2 separate regions of the Homo sapiens genome follow, and region 2 is linked to region 1. The links come from fine-mapping of genetic effects on gene expression. A gene starts in region 1. The other region holds a variant in brackets. All regions are shown on one strand. Distances are from middle to middle.

Region 1 (8,343 bases):
TTTTTTTTTTTTTTGAGATGGAGTCTTGCTCTGTCGCCCAGGCTGGAGTGCAGAGGGGCGATCTTGGCTCACTGCAAGCTCCGCCTCCCAGGTTCAGGCCATTCTCCTACCTCAGCCTCCCAAGTAGCTGGGACTACAGGTGCCTGCCACCATGCCCAGCTAATTTCTTGTATTTTCAGTAGAGACGGGGTTTCACCATGTTAGCCAGGATGGTCTCCATTTCCTGACCTTGTGATCAGGAGCATGAGCCACTGCGCCCGGCCCCCGCCTTCCGTTTTTCAAGAATACTGTCGGGACACACACAGGTCAGGGAAATGTAGATTCTCTCATTTCCCCTGGTTTTTAACAAATGTCCTTTATATAAAAGACAAAACTTGAGATGTTCAGGCTCTGTCTGAAACTACTGGCCTCTTGCATCCTTTAGATAAAGGACATTTGAAGTTAATGCTGGGCCTGTCATCCTTAGTTATACCACGTTGGACAAGGCATTTTATCTTCTGGATCCCAAGTTCCATACTTTTCTTTTTTTTTTTTTTTTTTGAGATGGGGTCTCACTGTGTTGCCCAGGCTGGAATGCAGTGGCACAATCTGGGCTCACTGCAACCTCTGCCTCCTGGGCTCAAGTGATCCTCCCACTTCAGCCTCCCAAGTAGCTGGGACTACAGGTATGCGCCACCACACCTGGCTAATTTTTTTATTTTTTGCAGAGACGGGGTTTCATCATGTTGCCCATGCTAGTCTCGAACTTCTGGCTCAAGCAATCCACCCGCCTTGGCCTCCAAAGCACTGGCATTATAGGCATGAGCCACCATGCATGGCTATACTCTTTAATGAGGAAGTTAAACAAGAGTTTAAAAATTTTTTTTTAGCAACAAAACCATTGTCTCAAACAAAGTCTTAAGTCACTCTATAAAACAGATGGAGATAATATTTCTCCATTTGACTCCAACTGAGTAAAGTCCAAGCCAGATTGCCTGGCCTCCCTCACATTCGTCCCCTTCCCACACACTGCCAAGGTTCCTGAAGTACCCCTTGAAAGCCTAAAGCTTGTTGGAACCCAGTTTGAAAACCACCAGATGAGATAATATCTCAGGTTTCTTCCAGCTTTCAGTAGAATAGAAAAATCATTGACTATGGAATCAGACCTAGATTCAAATCCTAGTTCTGTCACTTTCTAAGCTGTATGACCAGACTCAATTTACCCATCTGTAAACGAAAACAAAAATAGTTCTGCTAGGTTAAAAAGACATGTAAAGCATCTAGGCCAGTTCCTGAAACCCAGGAGGGATTTGTAAATAGTAGCTATAATAAAGGTTATGGTCCTCACCTGAGCATAACAAAATGAGAGATGATCCTACACTTGAACTACAAATTTGCAGTAAGATCGCTGTCATTCCTGAAGCCGAATCCTCAGGAACTTGAGGCCAAAATTCTTTAAAACCTGAATTGGTTTTAATTGTTCCAAATTAGTAGAGGGGGGAAAATTCTTCTAATTCACTGAACAATCTGTATGCGTGGAGAGCATGTACTGCATAGACACACCCCAAGTCTCTTAAATGACACCACGGTCGATCCAACTAGCACAGGTGGAATTTGAAGCATGTTACTTTTACCAAAAAATAACAGGGGAAATGTCATTAAGAACACTTTAATACAAAGCCACAAGAAATTCAGTATCTGACAGCTCATGTTCTATATTTCACCCCATATCATAAAACAATTCACCAGAGAGCAGTTGTTCATTTGCTGAGCTGCTGTTGTGATAGCACATATTATTTCAATAATGGAGGAGTTCCTCCATAAAATCAGTCCCAGAAGCCAGTGATGTCTGAAAAATCTCACCTTTGGAGAATTTTCCTGGCATTCTGTAAAGGAAGTTGCACTTACAGGTCCTCTAATGTGCAGCAGCAAAGGAACAACAGATGCCAACATTCTTGTTTGCCTCATGAACTTAAGCCCTAAAGTAAGCTGACTTGAGTAAAGTTTAGAGGCTCCCCTTCAAGTTTTAGAAAAGCTTTCTTGTTTAACTTATGCAAATTTACACACCCTCATGAACCTATTGCATATATCCGACAACCGTCCATATTTTAGTACCATGTGGTGGCTCTCACCTATGCCCATATAGCTGGCGACAATGCAGGTAAGATCTGGTCAGCTGTCAGTTTCATTCAGTGAATACTCACTGAGCACCTGCTTTATGCAGGGCCCTGTCCTGGGCCACCAGGGAGAACAACGCAAGGTTCCAAACCTATGGAGACAGACAACGCATGCGGAATGACAACAGAGAAACAGAGTCACACGGAGAAAAGAGGGGAAATTGGGGAAGGCTTTTGTGGGGGAGGCGGGATTTGAACTGAGCCTTGAAGGAAGTGGGTGTGAGGATGGGGGTATGAGTAAAGATGGGAAATGGAGAATTGAAAGGCCGTCTTTAGAGAATGATTCACATTATAACGTGCTGGGGAGTAGGTGAGGCGGGAGGGCGGGATGGGAAGTGGGAAATTAGTGTGGAGACAGAAATTGTGGGCTTTGAGTGCCAGGATGAGGAATTTCTTTGCGTGTTGGGAAGCAGTGGCAGGCGCAGGACAGGATAATAATAATTTAAAGAAAATATGAGTAGCAAGTTGTGGGAGCGGGGAGGGAAGCTTGGTGCTCAGAATAATCAGAACTTTCTCAGTGGACCCAGGCTCAGTGGAAAGAGCGCTCTGGTTCCGTTTATTGCTCCCACAGAGAAGAGAGGAGAGACCCAGAGAGGTTTAAAATTAGAGGGGTCGACAGGGCACAGGGAACTCCTGGCCAACCATCCTTAGGAAAACAAGAGACCAGGAATAAAGAGAACCAGCAGAAGCACCTGGTCTGAGTCTAAGAAACATCAGTGTTTACTAAGCACTTGGTCTCTGGAACGCCTGGCTTTCCAAATACCACATCTTCCCATCCACTCCATCCTGCCACAGGCAGCTACTGTGTCGGGTGCTCAGGGAGCCGGAACCACATGCCTGGAAACCCTGAGCCCCTGCCCGCCGCCGTCCAAGCCGGCCGGCTGCAGCGCAGTTTGTTTGCCGAGGTTTGCATGCACATATTCAGTTGCCCTTTTTTTTCCCCCAGTCCTTTCAGCCGTGTCCCGAAATTCACCCTTAGTGTAACTTCTGCCTCTGCTCCTCCTCTTCTTGGAACTGCCTTTTGTTTGTCTGGCAGCGTTGGTTCTATGGGGGTGTGTGATGATAATAATACGCGGGCTTATATAACCGTCTTCATCTTGCGAGCACTTCGCAGACCGTCGCTAATGAATCTTGGGGCCGGTGTCGGGCCGGGGCGGCTTGATCGGCAACTAGGAAACCCCAGGCGCAGAGGCCAGGAGCGAGGGCAGCGAGGATCAGAGGCCAGGCCTTCCCGGCTGCCGGCGCTCCTCGGAGGTCAGGGCAGATGAGGAACATGACTCTCCCCCTTCGGAGGAGGAAGGAAGTCCCGCTGCCACCTTATCTCTGCTCCTCTGCCTCCTCCCTGTTCCCAGAGCTTTTTCTCTAGAGAAGATTTTGAAGGCGGCTTTTGTAAGTATCGTGCTCTGCTTTTACTTTAAAAAGAAAGAAGACAAACTTTCCTTCCTGTCCCTGTCCTTTTCGTATTATTTATTCATTATTCATCATATTATTATTCATTATATTCTCAGATGATGGAAAGTATGTTTCTGGCCAAAGTCTTCCACCCAAATTTGGTCCCTTGTAATGATAATAAGAGGGGAAAGAGGTTTCTGTTGATAATTAATTCACTTAACAAAATAGTACCCAGGCGAGGTACTGAAATTGGCCACTTTCACAGCATTCTGGTGATGTCTGGCTGTTGATACACACCACACACACACACACACAACACTACACACACACACACACACACACACACACACACACACACACACTCCTTTTTGCCCTTAAGAGGAGCCCTAGTCACCTGGCTTGTTAGACAAGGAGAAATGATGCCACTTTGGTCTTCAGTTTCTCTGCCTTGGGTACTCACAATTTCAATCAGTTGTAATTGTTGAAAGTTTCTTTTCACACTACGAAATAAATCCCATCTTTCAGTGCAGGCTTGAAACTTGCACTGGCTTGGGTAAACTGTACAAAACACTGTAGCTATAGTGGACATGTGAATTTTTATTAAATTTTTCACTGCATAACCGAAGGTTCTAATATTAAAGAAACATGGACACTAACTTTTTAAGCACAGGCAAAACTCAAAGCCCTGTTATCAAACTATGTGTCTTAAAGAGTGCTGAATTAACAGAGTACTCTTCTCAGAGATTATGCTCACTGCTTTGAGAAACTGCTTTTCAACAAGAGGTGAATTTAAAACTCTAGAATAACATGAAGAAAGACACAACTTCTGAATACTTAGCAACTCTGACTTGCTATTTGAACAAGCCAAAAAACAAAGGGTCTATTTTGGGCAATTGTACAATTTGCATTTATAAAACCGTGATTATAACTTGGTATGCTATGAGATACAGAGATTTATTGTTTTAATAAGATTTCAGGTAAGAAAACTAAGAACTATAAATTGGTAATAATGTAGAAAAGCAAGGCCTCTCACTTTTAATGCTGTAAGTGCTGTGATTCATTTGTAAGGCTTTATCATCTTTACCTCTAGATGAATAGATGTGAAAACCATGTATAGTATGTATGTATATGTTAGTGTGTATATGTGTCTTTATCTTAAATTCTTACATTTGTTGTATCTATCTAGTGCTCAGTATGTTATATGATAGTACAACATCCAAAATGGATCAAGTGGAGAAATTTATTTCACATCAACTTTCAGATTGCAATGTTTATTCAGTATTTATTAACACACATGGGAAATATTATAAAATTATGTCTTTTTTTAGATTCTCTTTAAATGATATTTTCCCTTAGAATTCTCTGTGGCTCCCATGAAATTCTAAGGTATAATTAAAGTCAAAAATAAGATTGGATTCTAGTTGCTTTTACCCCTAAATTTAAAAGTGATATTTCAACACTAAATTCTATACTTTACCTAATTTGATTACAAAGATGAACCACATAATCTCAGCATTAGCCTCAAAGGCAAACTCAATCATAATAGAAGGAACACAAGCTTTGATGAGATCTGGATTTCAGGCTTAGTTTGGTCAAACTGAATTAACTGAGCCTTGTGACACACACCTGTAGTCTTAGCTACTCCGGTGACTGAGGCAAGAGGATCGCTTGAGCCTAGAAGGTGGAGACTAGAGTGAGTTGCGTTTGTGCCACTGCACCTCAGCCTGGGTGACAAAGTGAGATCCTATCTCAAAGGAAAAAAAAAAAAAAAAAGAGAGAGACTATTGTAGTGTTCCAGTGAGAACTGCTGGGGGCACTGAGCAGTGTAGGTGGACAATAGGGCGCAGATTCCAGAAATATTTAGAAGGTAGAACATTCTTGACTCAGGGCTGGATGAAGGGAATGGAGGAAAAGGAAACTTTTATAATATTAGTTTTGGGCCTGGGCTACTGGGTAGTTGTAATAGAATACCATAGAACAAGAGGAGGTACTGGTTTATGAAGAAAATTGAGTTAGTTGGAGTAATATCAGGTTGAGATATCACTAAGAGGTTAGACTGCAACGCTGAGTAAAAATAAAAAGCAATTTTTTTAAGCATAAAATTATCATCTGGATGTGGTGGCATGTGTCTGTAGTCCCAGCTACTCAGGAGGCTGAAGCAGGAGGATCTCATGAGCCCAGAGGTTCAAGGCTATGGTGCACTATAATCAAGCTTGTGAATAGATACTGCACTCCAGCCTGAGCAACATAGTGAGACCCTGGCTCTTTAAAAAAAAAATGCTAGATTTTTGTCTTTGAAATTTTGAGGAGATACATAAAGACTGAGCTCTCCCTACTATGTTCTAATGCCCCCCAAGAAATGGTCACTATCTGGACTCAATGAAATCAGAGCTTTAATCTTGTGTCCCTGCTGCCAAATGAATTTTTTTCTCATTAACTTTTCAATAGGAAGCCCATGTCTAGGGCAGTCTTGCCTGTAGCTATGTGTATCCTCAAAGAGAGTAATTTTTACTTCTTCAGAGACTTCAGAAATGAGCAGAGACTAAAGATCTATGAGCTAGTAGAATACTTATTCATAAAAAGCACATATGCATGAAGAAGTAATACTTATCAAAAACAAACCCTTTCCTTAACAGGGATTCTTCACTTCTCTTGAACAAGGAACTCACTCAGAGACTAACACAAAGGAAGTAATTTCTTACCTGGTCATTATTTAGTCTACAATAAGTTCATCCTTCTTCAGTGTGACCAGTAAATTCTTCCCATACTCTTGAAGAGAGCATAATTGGAATGGAGAGGTGGGTAACATTCGCAAATTTTTTAAAGATGACAACTGGAAGAATTTTAACATTTTGAATGAATAGAAATCAATCTGATTAGCAGGCAGGAAGCTGTGACTTTTTAAATCTTGAGGTCTGATTACTTGATAACCCTGGTTTTCTTATACCCTTTCACCCTTTCTGTGCTCAGCACTTAATCTTCTAGGCAAAGCCTCTATCGGATTTCCTGGATTTCAGAGCTGTTACCCTACCTGAGCACTTCAGAGCAAATGCCATTTCTTATAAAAGGGGCTTAGCCCCAGACTTTATGGCTAGTCTTGCAAAGTGGTATAATATTTCTTTCTGGTACGTGAACTGTATCAACACATTTAAAAACAGATTTAAAAAGCTATTTCCACCTCTAAATATAAAGAGCCTTACCACTTATTAGAAAGATAGCATTTGATAACAATCTGAATTTCTTCCACTTCTGATGGCTCACTTAATTCACCAAACTTTGGAAATCATCTTTGACTTTTGAAATGGTGAAAAACATTTCTATTTTTGCTAAAATGCTTTTGCCATAAAAAAAGAAGTGTCCCAAAAAGGAACCGTTAACATCTCAGCTATGCAAAATAATCACCAAATATATACTTTTGAATAAGATGACTGCATCATGGGAAAGTTCATTATTTAAGGAAGGAACAAGATATATTTGGGGAAATTCCCATTAGCACAATTGAAGTATGAAGAATATACTGAGCTTCCATATATGGTGCTGGTCATTCCACATTTAGGTTACTCAAGCCATTTAAACTTGGCTTCATAAGCAAGTACTACACCCTCACAATCTTTTTAGGTTAGCCGACATAATGATTTACTCCCAACTGGGTGCTGCCTGAGCCACTGTGCTTTGCCTCTGCAGTGTTTAAAGAGTGGATAGTTCGCAGCTGTGAAGTTCCCCAGACACCTGAGTCCAAACTGTTGCTGGATTTTGCTTCTTTCTGTGCTCCATGGAAAGCTGGAAGCTCCTCAACTTTCTCTTGGGTTTGGCTTCCTGTTCACATGTTTTCTGGCCCCATGTCAATTGTGTATGAAGTAATAGTCCCACATGCGTGCACCATCCACGATGGCAAGATTTGTGTGGTTCAGCATGAGTTTTCTAATGAGCACACTTTGGACCTTCCAACAACCCTTTAGGAAAAGCAGTTTGGAACCAGTTATTACTTTCCAAGGTGACGGAAGCTAAAACAGAATGTTCTTTTCTCTTTTTTTTTTTTTTTTTTTTGAGACAGAGTCTTGATCTGTCACCTAGGCTGGAGTGCCGTGGTACAATCTCAGCTCATTGCAACCTCTGTCTCCTGGATTCAAGCAATTCTCCTGCCTCAGCCTCCTGAGTAGCTGGGATTACAGGCACCTGCCACCACGCCTGGCTAATTTTTGTATTTTTAGTAGAGACGGGGTTTCACCATGTTGGTCAGGCTGATCTCAAACTCCTGATCTCATGATCCACCCACCTCACCCTCCCAAAGTGCTGGGATTACAGGCATGAGCCACCAGGCCCGGCCCAGAATGTTCTTAAGCAACAAGACTAAAGCCACTTTTAAGAGACAATTAAAGGACAACTGCATAGGAAAAATGAACATTTACCTTACACATCTGTCTAAATGTGTGTATGTGTAAAGTATATAAAAATGCCTCCAATTCACAGTTTAAAAATATCAGTTACTGTTTCAGCATTTTGCTACTGATGAATGGTGCTAGTGTTTTCCACTAAGGACTGTTATTTTAATGACATTTCTCTGCAGCAAAATTTGATGAGTTTACAAAGTTTCAGAGCCAGGAAATGCAGCTTGATTTCTGAACAACGGGGACAACCAAGAGAGTTAAGTTCAATCATCTAGTTGCTTTATAGCATGGATTCCTAAGTGCTAACTGCAGTAACACACTGACACAGAGAGCAAAGCCAAACCAAACTCTTAAAGTACAGCTGTTAAACTATCAAGCTTAACTTCTCGATATATTCTCAACAGGTG
Region 2 (8,343 bases), 310 kb before region 1:
TTGCATAGCACTCTACAGTCTACAGAGTGAAACTATTTAATTTGAACCTCTAAACAAGAGATAAGCATAAAACCTAGGTAGAATTATTCTTGAAATATCATGAAAAGCATTTTTCACTATGCACCTTGTGAAAATGAGCCGGTTTGCATGTAATGTCTATAACATCCACATAAACAGAAGTCATTATCAGATAAATCTTTTGATTCTCATGTACCTTTTTTATTCTGCAGCGTGTAAGCCATTTGTGCATTCTGTTTTCTCAAGTACTTCCTAGAGAAAATACATTAATTGATGTGCCTATTTAAATGTAGTTTTATCAGTAGTAATTCTAATTGCTGAGTTTAATTTGGCAACCTTAAGGAGTGCTAAGTCTCTAAAAACTCATCCTGTCTCTATGTTGCTTTGAACCATAAATTTAAAATAATTGGAGAAATAGAAATGACAACTGTTCAAGTCCTTTATATATTAGGATTAGGATTTCCCTAAGAAAATTCAAAGAATCTAAAAACTATCTTCCATAGTAGAATAAAGTTTGACAGTGACTCAAAAAGGAAGTAGACTTACTTCTTTCTTATTGTTGATGAAATCAAATTTAACAATAAGAAAGTCTGTAACAAGTTCATGTGTATCTTTGTTTGCTTTTTACTTATTATCATGATAACCCTTCTTGTTTCCTCAATATATCCTAAGAATAATAATAGCATTTGGAAAGTTATTTTCCTTCCTCAAAACGGAGAATGAAAACTTAAATCTCACAATGACATTATGAAGTTTATCACTCTTCTCTTCATTTAAAACCAGTCAGTAAATATATTTTAGCATACCTTCTTTTGTATGGTGCCAGGCTTTCTGTACTATGAAAAAACTGGGTGCAGAAACTTTTTAAAAATTTTCTTTTGGTATTCTAACACCAGCTATAAAGTTAGGAAAAGTAACACAAGCATCTAATACTTGAGGCACAATCACCCTTGCCACCTATTAGCTTTGTTGGGTTATTACCCCCCTCACTGAAAAAAATAACAAACTCTGCTTGCTATAGTGGGAGTGCTCACCGTGCTGAAGCGCTGGCCGGGGCAAGAGCTGGAGAATGGGGCTTTTGTTAGTTATCCTTTTTTTGTTGTTTTCTCACAGGCTGGTCTTGACTATTACTTCCTTCTTCGTGCCTTATCTGTGGGTGAAATAATCCTCTGGAAAAATGAAGGGTAGCTTGACCTCTCATTTATCTCTGTCCAGAGTCCACTGTCACCAGACTGATGAAAAGTGGGGAAAATAGTCCGTCAGCAGAGCCTGTTAATTCAAAGATCACTGTCTGACTCATTTTGTTTTGGGAGTATAGACTTTCTTTCTGTTAAGTGAACAAATTATTTTCTTTCTGTCCAGTTCAGGTATAGAATGATTAGGGCCCCTGAAGAGTAAATTGGACTCTGATGACTGTGGTAACGCAGAAGTTGGAAAGTCAACAGCGTTGTTAAAATAAGACTTTCCTTCCAAGTGTCATTATGTGTGCCAGAGCCAACTGTTCGTGACAGCACCAAGAAACAGGCCTGGATTGATAAAGCTGCACTTAGACTTATCCAAATTAAGGCAAAAAGCTAGCTGGGAATGGACAAACCAGACAGCACAGATTCGTGGAGACAAAAGTTGCCCTTTGATTGGAGTGTGTAAATCAAAATTTGCTAAAAGTTTGAATTTCTTCCTGAAGTTTCCTTTGCTTTTCTCCAAAGATATTTTGTGTTGATAAACTAAATCATTTTTCAATATTCTCCTTCCTCTTAGACTGAAACCCATGAATATCTGTGAGCTCACAGATATCATAGAGGTAACTAAATGTATAAAAGTGCTTCTATTTGTTATCTTAGAATATGTCATAGGAACCTCCTCTTTGAGGCCAAACTTCGTAACAGTGGAGACTGTGTGACATGGTTTGGCTGTGTCCCCACCCAAATCTCACCTTGAATTGTAATAATCCCCATGTGTCAAGGGCGGGGCCAAGTGGAGAAATTGAATCATGGGGGCGGTTTCCCCCATACTGTTCCTGTGGTAGTGAATAAGTCTCAGGAGATCTAATGAGTTCATAAAGGGGAATTCCCCTGCACATGCCCTCTTGCCAGCCACCATGTTAGACATGCCTTTGCTTCTCTTTTGCTTTTCACTATGATTGTGAGTCCTCCTAAGCCATGTGGAACTGTGAGTCCTTAAATCTCTTTCCTTATCAATTACCCAGTCTCAGGTTTGTCTTTATAACAGCGTGAGAACAGACTAATACATTGTCCTAAAGTGGCTCAGAGAAGAATCTAGCAGCTGGTGATAATCTTACCTTGATAGTTTAGGGGGTGTAGGGAAATGGGATAAAAATAAAAAATAGGGCTGGGCACAGTGGCTCACACCTATAATCCCAGCACTTTGAGACACTGAGGAGGGAGGATTGCTTGAGGCCAGGAGTTTGAGACCAGCCTGGCCAACCTAGTGAGACCCCATCTTTTCAAAAACAAAAGAGAATGAAAAATATGAGCACTTTCTAAAGTGACCATAAAGAGTTCTGATTGAAATGAGAAAAAAAAATACATGTAATATGTTATTCTGGGATGGGGACTACAAAAACAATTTGATCCCAATTTCAGATATACATATGTATTTCCACACCAGGTATCAACAGTGGCTACTTATGAGTGGGACAATCATGGTAGATTTTTATTTATTTGTCTTTTACAACACAATTGACAACATAACTGGTGCCAGTTACTTTGTAGATTATGGTTTGAGGGAGCAAGTTGCCACACTTTTTCCCATCTGCAAAGCAGGGAAGGAAATGCTTCACTGAATTGTTGTGATGACTGAATGAGGTAAACTCTGAGTGAACTAGACAGATAACTATTCACCAGTATTCTAGAGAGACTGGGGAAAGCAGATGGAAATAAAAAGGGAACAAACTGAGAGAGAAGCATAACAGGCCAGAAAAGAAAGTTATATGTTGGGGATATAGCTTGAAATGTGATCAGAGTGTGTGTGGATAGGGCAGGTCAGCGGGGGACAGAGCCGGAGTCTGTTTTCCAGGTGACTGTGTGGTGTCTCCTGCAGCCGCACTCCCTGAGCACCACAGAGCTCTTTTCATTCTTTATTACAGAGGCCAGGGAGTGCAATGACTTGTCCACAGTCACATTTTTCAGCACTCTCTGTGGTCCCTGAAGTCTACCCATCCATTACGCATCCAAGTAAAGCTCATGAAAGTCAGAGAGCATGCCGCCCCAGCCCTCCCTCTGTCCTCCCCTGTGTCTCTTGCTCTCTCGTCTCTGGAGATTTACCTTGGTCTTCAGCCTCAATCTACTTGTTCATGACTTTGGTCTGTCTCCTCTTCACCTGTCTTCTTGAGTGAGGATGCTCCAGTTCCAACTCATGGCATATCACCTCAGCCTTACCATCACTCACATCCCTCTACCAACTTGGAGCACAACTTGGGCAATACCAGATTAAACAATACTCTAGCGTTTGGAATGCTTAAATTCCAGTTTGTCTGTTACTTCAAAAGATGAAGGCTTCTACCTACATTGCATCTCTTTCTTTTGATAGAGTATCTAGATACAGACACAATCAATATTAGAAGTCCTACAGAAGTCATTTTGTAATTAATATTTTTGGTAGCATGTCAAAAGAAAAGCAAAAAGGGTTGTAATAGATAAGACATACAAACACCTTTACTCTGTAATTTACCTTTCCTGAATTATGATAGCTTAAATGTCTCCTACCTAAGTACTTTCACAAGCATATTTATAAATCATAACAGGAACTCTTATTATAACAATCCTAATACATGTTTGTTCATGCCTTCATGTTCTTGAAGGTATATTCTTTAACTTTTTCTATTTTGGTTTTGACATGTATCTATGACTATTGCCAAGTTTAAAATTTATAATAACTCTTAATTTTAAAATATTTTTAAAGTATATTGATGGTATTTAAATGTCAAAAAATTATTTTACATTTACTTGAGGGAAACAAATTCAGTTTATGTAAATTTTAAAATGAGAATAAAAACAAGACTCAGTAGCAGTTTGTATCTTTTAAACATAGCCCTGTGAGTCTATGTTTCCAAGAAACAATTTTTTCTTTAGTGACCACTACAAAAGAATAAAAAATACTGTCATAAAAATATTGTACTTCATGTGTCCCTTGGGCAGTTAGTTGAGTCATTGCCCTAAGAAAGAAAAGACCAGAATTC[T/C]CATAAAAGTCCAGTGTTGACTCACCAGATGTTTATGGCTGAGCCATTCTTGTGTGTGCTTTTCCTAGGAAAAAGAAACTCTTGTACCCATCTCATCCATCTCTTCTCAAAAGAAACAAGGCCATTTCAGTATCTTCAAATCTGAAAAACAGTACTTCCTTAAAATCATGATGATTTTATATCCATTTTGAATAACATTTTAATAAGGTTTTATTAAAATGTTTTGGCTTTGTCTAAGTTTTCTGAGGCAAAGTTCTGGATACTTTGTCCAATCTTCATATCTAAAACAATCAATAAAGTCATTTTCCACAGAAGCATTTGAAAATCTGTCTATAGAATTTATGCTTTTCCTTTCATTTTCTTTTCATTTTGATGGTATGCATATATATATATATATATATCTTTCCACTATTAAACCAACAAAATTAAACTCCAAGCAAACTATATCCATATTCGAATTGGGTGTGACAACACATACTTGGTTACAAAGAAAAGTAAATATTTTCCTGGCCAGGTGCAGTGGCTCACATCTGTAATCCCAGCACTTTGGGAGGCCAAGGCAGGTGGGTCACCTGAGATTAGGAGTTTGAGACCAGCCTGGCCGACATGATGAAACCCTGTCTCTACTAAAAATACAAAAATTAGCCAGGCATGGTGGCATGTACCTGTAGTCCCAGCTACTTGGGAGGCTGAGGCAGGAGAATTGCTTCAACCCCAGAAGCAGAGGTTGCAGTGAGCGCAGAGATCACGCCACTGCATTCCAACCTGGGCAACAGAGCTAGACTCTGTCTCAAAAAAAAAAAAAAGGAAACATTTTCTTTCAGAAATTTCTTATTAATGATAATTTAGCATTAATTTTATTTTTAAAGCTCAACGTTTCTAATAGGAGAGATGAAACCCTGTCTCTACTAAAAATACAAAAATTAGCCAGGCATGGTGGCACATTCCTGTAGTCCCAGCTACTTGGGAGGCTGAGGCAGGAGAATTGCTTGAACCCCGGAAGCAGAGGTTGCAGTGATCGCAGAGATCAGAGATCACGCCACTGCACTCCAGCCTGGGCAACAGAGCTAGACTTTGTCTCAAAAAAAAAAAAAAAAGAAGGAAACATTTTCTTTCAGAAATTTCTTATTAATGCTAATTTAGCATTAATTTTATCTTTAAAGCTCAACGTTTCTAATAGGAGAGTGTACTCTCCATCAATCTGCTCAACTCTGCTTTATCACAACTGAGAAAGCTCTGCCAATCAGCAATCGGCTGAGTGAGGGTTTGCTGTGCATCTTGCACTTTGTTAAGCTCTGTAAAGATGCAGAAGAATGTTTGTTGTGGTCTCTGAACTCAAGGAAGCTCAAAGCTAGTTGGAGGGAGGAGAAATGATGAAATAATACCCATTAATTAATTAATGAACATGACAGTAAACTATATGCCACTTCTGACAAACTGTGTCGTAGTTCAGAGGAGGGAGCAGTCTGTACACCTTGCAGCTGTCTTTCTGAAAGTGTGGTCTAGCATGGGCAAGTAAGTTCATGATATTTCTTTCCTTTGATCATTTAATATGCTAATATGCCTCACGAATTAAAGAAAATGTATTATTTTATTACTCTACATATTTAATAAATGTTTATTGGGTGCCCATTATGTGTCAGGGAATTCAGCAGTAAGTAACACAAGGCCATTCTTCATATGAAGATGAAGGGTTGGCAGGTAAACCCTCACCAATAGGGTCTCACCTGAGCAGAGACCTGAACAAAAGGAGAGAGCAAGCCACAAGGTGATGTGGGGAAGAGTTTTCCAGGCAGAGAAAACAGAATCAGAGCTAGGAGCACATGATCCATGTTGCAGGAATGGGAAGAAGGTCCTGGGGCTAGTGCTGAGGCAAGGAGAGGAATTACTGAAGTACCAAATGTATGTCAGTTTTCTAAGTGAGCATACATCACTGAACCCTCACTCATTTTCTTGAGAGAATCTTATAAGGCTAAGGGAAAGCAGAACACATTTGCCAACAATAATTAGGGGAGCGGAGGTTGGATGTGCCCTAGATGTTGGAACATGGGCTGGAGTTTGCGGTTGATCATGTTGAGAAAGGACATTCCAGGAAGCAGCAACAGAATGAACAAAGGCCCACAGGAAGGAGGGAAAGGAGAACGGGAGGGGAAACAAGAATGCCAGGATGAGACCTGAGACCAGGTGGTTATTTGGCCAGGTTTAATTATTCAAAACTAAGTGCCTGGAACATGGAACACTGGATATTTGAAGCTGAAAATATATTTTGCAAAAGTGAATGTGAACCTTGAATTGACTAGAAATGTTTCATTTCTCCCTTTAACTTTGAATGGGTATGTACCTTTTTTATTTAATAGAATAATTTTAAATCACAGGATCTGCCTCTTGGGGAAGAAATGCCAGGCATTGTTAACAATGATTTATGTGAAATCATTTATTTAACTCATTCAACAAATCACTCATTTATTCATTTACTCAGTGAGCCAGTCAGTTAAGATTTATTAAACACTTACTGTTGAGAAAACAGTGTCAAGGGATGGGTGGGTTACAAAGCCACTGAAGACCCAGCACTGCCTTCAAACAATATCTGATCTCCTGTGGAGCATAATAAGACTGGCATTTGCTTTTCAGGAAAAATTGATGTGTTACTACAGAATCTTATACCAGGTTGACTATCATTCTAGAATTCTCAAGGAAACATTGTGTCTGAATGAAAAATCTAGGATTGTCAAGCAACTCATAATACATGTTAAATTACTGCCCTAGGATGAATGTAAGATGAGCCTGAAGAAAATAAAGACCTGATGGCGAGCTGGGGTTGGTCTACGAAGGCTTTATAATAACCTTTGATTTCTTGAAGAAAAAAAAGAAAATTGTGATGGCTTGATGTTGACAAAAGTTGGAAAATAAACTTATTTATGCACTTGGCAACATGTACTCTGCAATTCTGCTGCCAGGTCCTGCCTGTTCAGAAAGGCTTGCTTTTAGGATACAAATTGCTACAATCAAAGCCACTGATGAGACAACTTCAACTCACCCCTTCCACGTTTTCCACAATTAAAATCATGGAAACATACGAAACTCTCTCATTTCACTATTTGCGCAGGCTGTTCATCTTTCCTTCTTTAACTTCTTTGCTCCCTTTCCAGACAATATCTTTTACTTGCATTGTACTTTTAGAACACTGTTTCTGACATGAATAACCTCCTTACATTTCCCTTGAGGTAACATTCCCTGGAAAAAATACAGAAAGGGGCAAAGGCATCTTGTCCAAAGGAAGTATGGAAAGCCTCTTCCCGTTACCACCACAATCCTCTACATTACGTGCAAGGAGTCAGAGAAGGACATAGTGGTAACAAATTGAGTCAGTATTTCCTCTGCCCTCCTGCCAGCTCAGAGTTCTGTATGCTTTCAGAGCTGATATATGGAGGAACAACACAAGGTTAACTTTTTTCAGTAAAGAGTTTTGTTGTATAATAATTTCTACTTAAACTATAATTTTTGACAATTATCGTCAAAATTGCTCATTTAACATAAAATGTTTAGTGCCGACTGGTTTTATAAAGGTTATTATAAAGCTTCAGTTATCAGTGCATATGCCTTCTCAGCTACACTGTGAGAATTTTAAAGAGACATAGCTACAAATATAGACTTCATCATGGACAGAGAGAGCACCATATATTTTCAGAGTCTAGCACAGTGCTTTGAACACATTAGATGCTTGTTTCTCATTTAGGAATTGGTTGTTGATTTCAGAGAAGTAACATGCTACTTAGGTTATGCCTGTGACATTGGACAAAGAAGCACAAAATCTAGGCATTTTTCCCAGCTCTCCATGTAATTAAATGTCAATTCCTAAGGAAGTCACTTCACAGCTCTTGCCTTGGTTCTCTCATTTATACAATTAATAATAATAAAAAAGAAACACCTAATTCAGCATTAATACATTTTCCACAATAATTGAAATTTTATAATTCCATAATTCCATAATAGTTCAAAATAACAACTATTCGCATGTTGATTTGGCTTTCCACTGGCAAATAGTGTTTAGCACAGGGACTAATTTTCCTACTGAACTGACTCTGCTTTCTTTTAACTTTTTATTTCAAAGTAATTTTAGATTTGCA

Which allele goes with the higher level. Positions count from the first base shown, and alleles are read on the strand shown. Sizes are in standard deviations (SD) of each study's normalised expression.
For the expression in tibial artery of the gene that starts at base 3,267 in region 1, allele T in region 2 goes with a lower level than allele C (small effect, 0.21 SD a copy in GTEx).

The links. PIP is the estimated chance that this variant, and not a neighbour inherited with it, causes the effect.
Region 2: its variant is the best candidate, but not a certain one, in a credible set for the expression of SULF1 in tibial artery (GTEx, PIP 0.66).

Annotation. Positions count from the first base shown.
Region 1 is chr8:69,489,581-69,497,923 of GRCh38, forward strand. It overlaps SULF1 (sulfatase 1), which reads left to right and starts at 3,267. Exons shown (of 23, transcript NM_001128205.2): 1 at 3,267-3,545; 2 at 6,185-6,346.
Region 2 is chr8:69,177,063-69,185,405 of GRCh38, forward strand. No RefSeq gene overlaps it. Among named protein-coding and RNA genes, the nearest start is that of LINC01592, 77 kb to the left of the region's middle. The variant T/C (reference allele first, on the strand shown) is at 4,217.